Linked DNA regions of Homo sapiens. The protein of the gene in region 3 purifies or fractionates together with the protein of the main gene of each other region. This does not show direct contact. Each region holds a gene or a part of one and is shown on either strand. Other genes may lie near its edges. The genes, in order: GPBP1L1, INF2 and UHMK1.

Evidence for each region.
Region 1: the proteins of UHMK1 (region 3) and GPBP1L1 purify together in Homo sapiens (affinity purification with mass spectrometry; one large-scale study listed by BioGRID and IntAct). This does not show direct contact.
Region 2: the proteins of UHMK1 (region 3) and INF2 purify together in Homo sapiens (affinity purification with mass spectrometry; one large-scale study listed by BioGRID and IntAct). This does not show direct contact.

The regions. Positions count from the first base shown.
Region 1 is NC_000001.11:45,630,984-45,634,634, forward strand, and holds part of GPBP1L1 (vasculin-like protein 1), read right to left. Parts: intron 3,254-3,651; coding exon 3,113-3,253; intron 2,693-3,112; coding exon of another isoform or gene 2,665-2,692; coding exon 2,506-2,664; intron 1-2,505. UniProt on the Homo sapiens protein: Possible transcription factor.
Region 2 is NC_000014.9:104,703,049-104,706,699, reverse strand, and holds part of INF2 (inverted formin-2), read right to left. Parts: intron 3,596-3,651; coding exon 3,480-3,595; intron 3,406-3,479; coding exon 3,246-3,405; intron 2,785-3,245; coding exon 2,751-2,784; coding exon of another isoform or gene 2,747-2,750; exon of another isoform or gene 1,891-2,746; intron 666-1,890; coding exon 524-665; intron 1-523.
Region 3 is NC_000001.11:162,504,188-162,507,838, reverse strand, and holds part of UHMK1 (serine/threonine-protein kinase Kist), read right to left. Parts: intron 1-3,651. UniProt on the Homo sapiens protein: Upon serum stimulation, phosphorylates CDKN1B/p27Kip1, thus controlling CDKN1B subcellular location and cell cycle progression in G1 phase. May be involved in trafficking and/or processing of RNA.

The DNA.
Region 1 (3,651 bases), about 120 Mb from region 3:
GAACAGAGAGCCCACAAATAGACAACTGATCTTTGACAAAGGAAATACAATGGAGAAAAGATAGTCTTTTCAACAAATGGTGAGGGAACAATTGGACAGCCACACTAAAAAAAAAAAAATCAATCTAAACAAAGACCTTACAGCCGTCACAAAAATAAAGTCAAAATGGGTCACAGACCTAAATGTAAAACACAAAACTATAAAACTCCTATAAGGATAACATAAAAGAAAACTTAGATTACCTTGGGTATGACATTTATTTATTTATTTATTTGTTTATTTACTTACTTATTTTTGGAGATCAAGTCTCACTCTGTTGCTCAGGCTGGAGTGCAGTGGCGCGATCTCGGCTCACTGCAACCCCCGCCTCCCATGTTCAAGTGATTCTCATGCCTCAGCCTCCCATGTAGCTGTGACTATGGGTGCATGCTACCATGCCCGGCTAATTTTTCTGTTTTTAGTAGGAACGGGGTTTCGCCAGGTTGGCCAGGCTGGTCTCAAACTCCTGACCTCAGGTGATCCGCCCACCTCAGCCAACCAAAGTGTTGGGATTATAGGTTTGAGCCACCGTGACTGGCCTACAATTAATTAGGCTGGATTTCATTAAAATAAAAAAAATTTCTGCTTTGCAAAACACTCTGTCAAGAGAATTAAAAGACAGTGTAGTTGCTCACACCTGTAATCCTAGCACTTTCGGAGGCCAAAGGTGGGAGGACTGCTTGAGTCTAGGAGTTTAACACCAGCCTGAGCAACATAGCAAGAAGCTATCTCTGTACCAAACAAAATATTAGCCAGGCATGGTGGCACAAGCCTATAGTCCCAGCTACTCGGGAGGCTGAGGCTGAGGCATAGCTTGAGGAGGGGAGGTCGAGGCTGCAGTGAACTGTGATCATTAATGCCACTGCATTCAGCCTGGGCGACAGAGTGAGACACTGTCTCAAAAACAAATATGGCCGGCTGGGCATGGCAGCTCATGCCTGTAATCCCAGCATTTTGGGAGGCTGAGGTGGGTGGATTACCTGAGGTCTGGAATCCGAGACCAGCCTGACCAACATGGTGAAACCTTGTCTCTACTACATACAAAAAAAATTCCAGAAAATAGTATACTCTTTCATCCTCACAGGTCTAATTCCTTATCAGAACCACAAGGCTGTGTTCCAGAGTTATGGTCTGAGCTCTTGGTCTTCAAGGAAGCAGGTTGGCCTTCCTCTGCCTCTTGTTCTGCACTGTAGTTTCCTGGTCCTCTGGCCAGAGCTAAGAAGCTAAATAACGTGTGTCATGTGGTGGCACATGCCTGTAATCCCAGCTACTTGGGAGGCTGAGGCAGGAGAACTGCTTGAACCTGGAAGGCGGTGGTTGCAGTAAGCTGAGATTGCTCCATTGCACTCCAGCCTGGGCAACAGAGTGAAACTCCATCTCAAAAAATAAAGTAATACAAATAAATAAATATGGCCACATGTGGTGGCTTATGCCTTTAATCCTAGCACTTTGGGAGGCTGAGACAGGCAGAACACTTGAGGCCAGGAGTTCAAGACCAGCCTGGCCAACATGACGAAACTCCATCTCTACTAAGAATACAAAAATTAGCTGGGCGTGGTGGCGGGTGCCTGTAATCCCAGCTACTCAGGAAGCTGAGGCAGGAGAATCGCTTGAACCCGGGAAGCGGAGGTTGCAATGAGCCCAGATCGTGCCACTGCACTCCAGTCTGGGTGATAAGAGCCAGACTCTGTCTCAAAATAAATAAATAAGAAAGAATGAAGAGTCAAATCACAGACTTGGAGAAACTGTAGTCAAAGACACATCTAATAAAGGACTATTAACTAAGATATACAAAGAACTCTAAGAACTCTTAAAACTTAGCAATAAGAAAACAGACAACCTCATTAAAAAATGGGTAAGGGACCTGAACAAACACATCAACAAAGAAGATACATAGATGGATGCTCCACATGATATGTCATCATGGAAGTGCAAATTAAAACTACACACCTATCAGGAGGGCCAAAATCCAGAACACTGATAATATCGAATACTGGTGAGGAGGTGTAGCAACAGAAATTCTCATTTATTGCTGGTGGGAATGCAAAATGGCACAACCACTTTGGAAGACAGTTTGGTGGTTTCCTGACAAGCTAAACATGCTCTTACCATATGATCCAGCAATTGCGCTCCTTGGTATTTACCCAAAGGAGTTGAACTTATGCCAGCACAAAAACCTGCACATGGATGTTTACTGCAGTTTTATTCATAGTTGCCAACACTTGGAAGCAACCAAGATGTACTTCAATAGGTGAGTGATTACTAAAATAAACCCGAATTTAACATTTTTGCTGAAAAAAGGATTAAACTCACTTTACTATGTGGTCTAGAAGGCAGTTACACCTACAGACAGTATCTCTGTACATTTAAAAATCTTGCCACATCTTTATCCTTTAAGAAGAAGAAATCACGTATGTATCAAAGGAAAATTCCTAGGCTACCCCCAGAAAAGGCGGATGCTCTTACATCTTCCAGCTTGTCACAGTCTCTATTCTCTGAGAAGTCTCCATTCCGGTCATCCTTCAGAGTTTTCAGGAACTCACTCTTCCTGTCGGTGGTTCGGCGGGTCAACTTGGTCAGACGAGAGGAGCTGATCTCAATTGGAGGGGTGGTGCTGGAGGGACTCTGGGCAAATACCACAAACAGGTTGCTCCTGACAGCAAAGAGCAAGAACTGGGGTTCTCTTCTACTAAGTGCTGACTTCAAGAATCTGGTAGCCTATTTATCACTCTGTCTTAAACCAAACAATCCTTTTATTTAAGCAGTTCAAACTTCAGTTTTGCAGGGTTTATATAGTTAAGAGCAGCTGGCTTACATGGCACCTCTTTGATCTTTCTACAGACATCAGCAGAATGCCAGTCTAACATAGGATGACCTTGGTCCACCACAGAGCATCTATCCCATTTAGCCACTGCCCACTTTTGGATGCTAACAGAAAACATCAATAAAGAAACTATTCTCAGCTAAATATAGCTACAAAACAAGTGTCACAGCTATACATATTACACTTGTTATCTAAGTGAACGGGAAATGGCAATTTCAGAAAAGACTGTCCTGCTTCATCCTCACTCACCTCTTTGGGAGAACTCAGAGCTGCACCACTAGCCAGTACCACTGGTTTGGTAACAGAGATTGGACTGGTAAAAGCAGACTCCCGGCTAGAGGAAAGGGATCCTGACTTGTGCTCCATCCTGTTAGCTTTCCATGCATTAGGCTACACAGGGTGAAAGAACAAATCAGTCAGAACAAGCACACAAACAGAAGCTCAGCTTATAAAATCATAAAGCAAAGAGTGAAATGTTACATGAGAACATAAGTTTCCAGGGCTTACCTGTCTTAACATGTTTGGGAAGTATGCAACCTCTTTCGGAGGTTAGGCACTTCAAGGAAAATGGTAGATGGGATACAGAAGAGCCATTGGACATTAATAGTGACTTCCCAAAAACAGGGCTCTAGTTCAATAGTTCAATGAGTTTGGGAGGTGCCGGGGTGAAAAAAGTTCAACAAGGTTCTTCACTGTGCAATTTCTCAAAGCACTTAACTGCACATAAGAATTTGAGAGGCAGTTATGCAGCATTTTCCTAATTTATTGAATCCCAAAACTTTTTTTAG
Region 2 (3,651 bases), on a different chromosome or scaffold from region 3:
ACTCAATGCCAACAGCACCCCCTGCCCAGCCGTGGCAGCCAAAAATGTCTTCAGATGTTGCCAGATGCCACCTGGGGACACAACTGCCCCCAGATGAGAGCTGCAAGGTTCAGGGAATGAGGGGAAGGCCTGAGCTTGACGAGAATTCAGCCTCTTAGCCCCTCACCAAGCCCTGAGGCCTCTGAAGCCCACCTGATGGGGACTGGGCAGCTGGGGCCCAGGACAGTAAGGCCGGCTGTGGGCCGCACTGGTCTTTGGAGCCCCGTCCTTCTGGGTCCTGTGGCCCTGGCTTTGCCCCCAGGGCCCAGCCCGGCCCCCAGGCTGCCCGCTCTAGGCGCCACCTCCCTTTCCAACCCCTGGGTCCTTGCTGCTCCCTGGAGTCTCACCCCAAAGCTGGCACCATGGCCCAGGTCACAGCAGGGTCTGACCAGGGCAGGGAGGACCGTTCCAGGCCCAGCCTCTGGACCTCAGGGCCACAGCCTGCCCTGGAGGGCTGCCCTCCGCCCTGCAGCCCCCAGCCCACCTTGTGGAACAGGGAGGCAAAGACCTCCTGGTGGCTGCTCATGTCGACCCCGCCAGAGACTCGCAGCAGCTCCTCCTCGTCCTCGGCCTTAGCCTCCTCGAAAGCCTCCAGCTGGATCAGCAGGTCGGCATCCTCCAGGTCTCTGTGCAGGAGGGGCCAGGTGGGCTAAGCCTGCTGCTGCCACCACCAACACGCAGGCGGGGCAGCCTGGGTCAGCGCCAGTGTACCAGCCCCGCTCAGCCCACCTGGGACTCTGAGCCAGGCCATAGCCAGCTGTGGCTGACATGTGACCCACATAGCCAGGGATAGCGACCTAAGAGTGGCAGCTCCCAGGTCAGTGCCTTGCGCCCTGCCAGGCTGCCCCCGGGTCACCAGGCACCCGCACGCCCCTGGGGAAGGGGAAGGGCGAGTATGCCCACTCCCATCGAGTAACGTGCACCAAGGCCTGGGGAGGTGGCACACAATGGAACCGGGCCGTGACCTTGGGGGAGGGAAGGCCCTCCCCTGGGCGCTGCGTGACTACAGTGAAGACCACACCTGAGGTGGGTCCACAGGGCTGCATGGATACAGGAGGGGCGGGGCTCTGGCCTGAGCAGGAGGAAACTTAGTGTTCACTGGGCCTAGGACTTGCCAGTCATCTCAGTCTGGTCAATGAGCACAGCCCTCCGCAGGCAGGGCCGGCCCCCTTCAGCCCACACTGGTGGGGCACAGGCACCCATGTGGGCAAACTTTGCTGAGGCCATTTCTGTTTTTTTTTTTTGAGATGGAGTCTCGCTCTGTCACCCATGCTGGAGTGCAGTGGTACGATCTCAGCTCACTACAACTTCTACCTCCTGGGATCCAATGATTGTCCTGCCTCAGCCTCCTGAGTAGTTGGGATTGCAGGCACATGCCACCACGGCCAGCTAATTTTTGTACTTTTAGTAGAGATGGGGTTTCACCATGTTGGCCAAGCTGGTCTCGAACTCCTGACCTCAGGTGATCTGCCCATCTTGGCCTCCCAAAGTGCTGGAATTACAGGCGTGAGCCACCGCGCCTGGCCCCTGAGGCCATTTCAACACCAGGCATTCTAGCCCTGGGCTCCTCCAAGCTGATTTCCCTGGGTGTAAGGACACCCCCCTGAGTACAGTCCTGACTGAGGCCTGGATAGAGCTTCTCAGCTATGTGGGTTCCCAGCAGGGCTGCAAGATTTAGCAAATGAAACTACAGAGTACCTGTTCAATTTGAATTTCAGACAAACAATGAATAACTTTTGGCATAAGTATATCCCATGCAACATCTGGGATATACTTACACCAAAATATCGTCTGTTGTGTATCTGAAACCTGAATGAACTGCATGTCCCATACAGTACCTGGCAACCCTAGTTTCTTTTTTAAAAAATTTTTATTTTAGACTCGGGGGTACATGTGCGTGTTTGCCACATGGTACACTGTGTAACGTAGGCGATTTGCCTTCTAGGGCAGTGGTCCCCAGCCTTTTTGGCACCAGGGACTGGTTTTGTGGAAGACAATTTTTCCATAGACTGGGGTGACGGGAATGGTTTAGGGATAAAACTGTTCCACCCCCGATCATCAGGCATTAGATTGTCATGAGGAGCGCGCAGCCTGGATCCCTTGCGCGCGTGCGTGCGCTGGAGAATCTAATGCAGTGCTGATCTGACATGAGGTGCAGCTCAGGCAGGAATGCCCGCCCACCGCTCACTTCCTGCTGCGTGGCCCGGTTCCAATAGGCCAGGTACCGGTCCGCAGCCTGGCGGTTGGGGACCCTTGTTCTAGTGGGCCTGACACCAAGTAGCGACGAACACTGTACCCTGTAGGTAGTTTTTCAACTCTCGCCCTGGAGCCCGTGTCCCTGTCTCCATCTTGCGTCCACGTGAACCACCCTGTAGTTCCCTCTTATTGGCATTTCATTTTCTGTTTCTGGGTTGGTTCACTTAGGATCACGGCCTCCAGCTCCATCCACGGTGTGCAAAGGATATGAGCTCATTCTGTCCTTTCTATGGCTGCTGCAACCCTAGTTTCTGTGGGCAGCTGCCAGGGACAGTGAGCTGGATTCTAGCCTGAGACCTGGCTTCTGGCTGGACCCCTGGGGTTACTCCGAGGGAGCCACCTCCCTGCCATCTGGAGGTGCTGCTTAGGTGAGGTGGCTGGGAGCCAAAGGGCAGGTGGGCCTGGCCTTGGGAGCAGGAGGGGGAGCCGGCAGGACCGCTACAGTGGGGACTCACCGCAGGCGAGCCAGGACGTCCAGCAGCTGCAGCCCTGGGAAGGGACGGACAGGGTCAGAGGGTTCGGAGGCCACTCCCCGCCTTCCCCATTTCACTTCTGCCACCCAGAGCACCTGACCCTGCCCTGCTGCACTCATGGGACACCAGAGACCTGAGGCTCTGGAGGGGAGACATCATGCTGGACACACAGTGATGCTTACTCAGGGCTCACTGCCAGAACTGGCAGGGCTAGAACGAGGTCTCAGGCCCCCTGTCCGGCTCCACTGCCTGGCCAGTCTCACAAATGAGAACGGTCCAGGGTTGACCCCCAGGCGTTCTGAGGCCTGTGTCCATTGAAGGGGCAGGTGGTGGCAGGCCCGAGATGGCGCCTTCCTCTGGGGCCCTGGGTCGGGGGCAGCTTTTGTGGCGCTCCCACCTCCCCAGGTGGATGCAGCATGGGATGCACTGGCCAAGAGGCGGGCAGGAGCGGGCATGCGGCCCAGGGCAGGTGCTTACCGATAAACTCGTTCCGCAGCTGGGTGCGCGCGCGCAGGTCCTCGGGGCCCAAGATGACGGCGTTGATCACGCTAAGCAGGGTGACCACGTAGGGCACGTTGTCGCTGCCGGAGAGCTCGTTCATGACAATGCTGAAGCGGTACTGCTGGCTGCACACCGTCTGTGGGGAGGGCGGGGTCAGGGCACACCCAGGCAGGGAGCCCCATGTGCCCAGGCCCAGGCCCTGCCGCCCACCTTGTAGTGGTCCAGGGCGTCCAGGGTCAGCACGTGGCCCTCGGGAGAGTAGATGCACAGGGCAGCCAGTAGCTCAAACACCTGCTTCTTCACCATCACGTTGGATGTGTCCAGGGCTGCCAGGGTGGAGTGGGCAGGCTCAGCAGGGCCAATGCACCCCTTCCCATGCCTG
Region 3 (3,651 bases):
CGAAGCAGGCGGATCACGAGTTCAGGAGATCGAGACCATCCTGACTAACATGGTGAAACCCTGTCTCTACTAAAAATACACAAAATTAGCTGGGTGTGGTAGCGGGTGCCTGTAGTCCCAGCTACTCGGGAGGCTGAGGTAGGAGAATGGCGTGAACCCGGGAGGCGGAGCTTGCAGTGAGCCGAGATCACGCCACTGCACTTCAGCCTGGGCGACAGAGTGAGACTCCGTATCACAAAAAAAAAGAAAAAAAAAAAGAAAGAATGGGTTGGGGGTGGTGGCTTATGCCTGTAATCCCAGCATTTTGGGAAACTGAGGCTGGAAGGTCACTTGAGTTCAAGACCAGCCTGGCACATGGTGGGACCTCGTCTCTTAAAAAAAGAAAGGAAAAAGAGATAATATAGAATCAAGATAAAATGGCAGCTGGGCGTTGTGGCTCACGCCTGTAATCCCAGCACTTTCGGAGGCCAAGGCAGGCGGATCACGAGATCAGGAGTTCAAGACCAGCCTGGCCAATATGGTGAAACCCTGTCTCTACTAAAAATATAGAAATTAGCCAGGCATGGTGGCAGTAGCCTGTAATCCTAGCTACTTGGGAGGCTGATGTGGGAGAATTGCTTGAACCCAGGGGACAGAGGTTGCAGTGAGCCGAGATCATGCCACTGTACTCCAACCTGGGCAACGAGCAAAAACTCCGTCTCAAAAAAAAAAAAGAAAGGAAAAAATGGCAACATTGAATATAAGGCAAAGAAAATCAAACGTATGTAGACGAGGAGGACATGAAAGTGAAAACCAAAAAGAACAGAAAAAATATTTAAAAACTGTAATTTAAGAGACATACCGTATTTCTGAGAATATTGACCCAGAACAATCAAAATCAAAATATATTTTGATAAAATTACTATACATGGAAGAAAAAGTTAAAATCCTCTGGGCATCTAGACAAGAAGACCAAGTGACTCTTTTTTTTTTCTTGAGACAGAGTCTCCCTCTGTAGCCCAGGCTGAATTGCAGTGGCACGATCTTAGCTCACTGCAACCTCCACCTCCCAGGTTCAAGCAATTCTCTGCCTCAGCCTCCTGAGTAGCTAGGATTATAGGCACGTGCCACCAGGCCCGGCTACTTTTTTTGTATTTTTAGTAGAGACGGGGTTTCACCACCTTGGCCAGGCTGGAAGACCAAGCGACTTTTAATGAAAAGGCAATTACTGAGTCATCAAACTTTCAACAGAAACACATGCAGTAATATATAGGACACTCAAGGAAACAAAAATGTATGAGATTGGGATGAGACACATACAGGACTTCCAGGGTGACAGGAAAAGTTTTATTTCTTGGTGTGAATGGTAGTTACAAGATGGGTACAATGTTCCTACAGATTAAGCTACACATTTGTTTAATTAGTGTTTTTAGTGTCTGTGCTTTATTCAACAACAGCAACAAAAAAGGTTCAGCGACTTGCATGCATATATAATGCAATATGCAGAAAAATAGTGGAAGGAAATATACCAAAGTGCTAACACTAGAATGTGGGTTTATAATTTTTATTTTCCTCATGATGACTTTCTATAGTTTCCAAATTTAGTATTCTATGTAAAATGGTGGGGGGGGGGGGGCTATTATTTAAAAAAAATAAAAATAAGAAAGTCAATACTAGAACTTAGATGAAAATTTAACTTCCAGGCTAGAATCCATTTTATAATTTTTCATTCCCATCTCTTCAATGTAAAATGCAATTTATAATATCTCATATCAATCAGATACTAACAGCTATTTAAAACTAATTTGAAAAACACACACAAGTAAGTATGCGTAAAACTGGTGAAATAGGAATAAATCATGTGGATTATACCTATTTCAATTTACTGGTTTTGATACTGTATATACTACAGTTATGTAAAAAGTTACCACTGGGGGAAACTGGGTAAATGGTAGGGACCTCTCTGTAACATTTTTGCAAAGTCCTGTGAGTCTGTAACTATTTCAAAGTAAAGAGTTAATAAAACTAACTTAAAGGTTTATAGGGCCAATATTCAAAGGAAACTATACTACTCTAACTCAGACAAGGGATCCATACTTTTCTAGCATACTAATTATTTTATTCACTTCCAGTCCATAGTCTAGAAATCTGAAAAACCTACTATTTAATAATACAGTCATATACTGCACAATGACGTTTTGGTCAACAATGGACCACATATATGACAGCGATCTCATAAAATAATACTGAGCTGAAAAATTCCTATCGCCTAGCGACATCGTAGCTATCATAATGTCCTATCGCAACACATCACTCACATGCTTGTGGTAATGCAGGTAATGCAGGTGTTGCGGTAGGACATAGATGTAAACAAAACTACTGTACTTGATAATGACAATACATAGCTGTGTTACTGGCTTATGTATTTATAACTATATATTTTTTTATTCCTACTTTAAAGTACATCGCCCTCCCCCAAAAAGTTGACTGTAAAATAGTCTCAGGCAGGTCCTTTGTGAGGTATTCCAAAAGAAGGCATTGTTAACATAGGAGATGACAGCTCTATGCATGTTACTGCCCCTGCAGACATTCCAGTAAGACAATATGTGGAAGTGGAAGACAATGATATTGATGATCCTGACCCTGTGTAGGTCTAGGCTAAGGTGTGCTTGTGTCTCAGTTTTTAACAAAAAATTTTAAAAGTAAATAAGATAAAGAAAAATTAAAGTTTATAAAGTAAAAAAGTTACAGTTAAGCTAATTTATTATAGAAGAAAAAAAATTTTGGCCAGAAGCGGTGGCACACACCTGTAATCCCAGCACTTTGGGAGGCTGAGGCAGACAGATCACTTGAGGTCAGGAGTTCGAGACCAACCTAGCCAACATGGTGAAACCCCGTCTCTACTAAAAATACAAAAATTAGCCGGGCATGGTGGCATGCACCTGTAATTCCAGCTACTCAAGAGGCTGAGGCACAAGAATCGCTTGAATCTGGGAGGCAGAGGTTGCAGTGAGCCAAGATTGTGCCACTGCACTCCAGCTTGGGTGATGGAGTGTGACTCTGTCTCAAAAAAAGGAGAAAAAATTTTAAAATAAATTTAGTGTAGGCAAAGTATACAGTGTTTACCCTTAGTCTTATAGTGTACAGTAATGTCCTAGGCCCTCACATTCACTCACCACTCACTCACTGAATTACCCAGAGCAACTCCAGTCCTGCAAGCTCTATTCATGGTAAAGTGCCCTATAAGGTATACCATTTTTAATCTTTTATACTGTATTTTTACTGTATCTTTTCTATGTTTAGACACAATACTTACCATTGTATTACAACTGTCTATAGTATTTGGTACAGTAACACGCTATATAGGTTGTAGCCTAAGAGCAATAGACTGTGCAATATAGCCTAGGTGTGGGCAGAAGTCTGTATCATTTACATTTATGTAAGTACTATATGATGTCAGCATGGCAAAATCACCTAATGACATATTTCTCACAACAGATCCCTACTGTTAAATGACACGACTGTACACATTTGTATTTTCAAAATATCTATTGTTTTCGGATCTATTCAGATATCAGAAAAACTGTATCTGTCCCCAGACCGTTGTCAAGAGTAATTATTTAAAGTATAATAAAAAACTATCTTATTCGAAATGGTTTTTGGGTCTTTTTT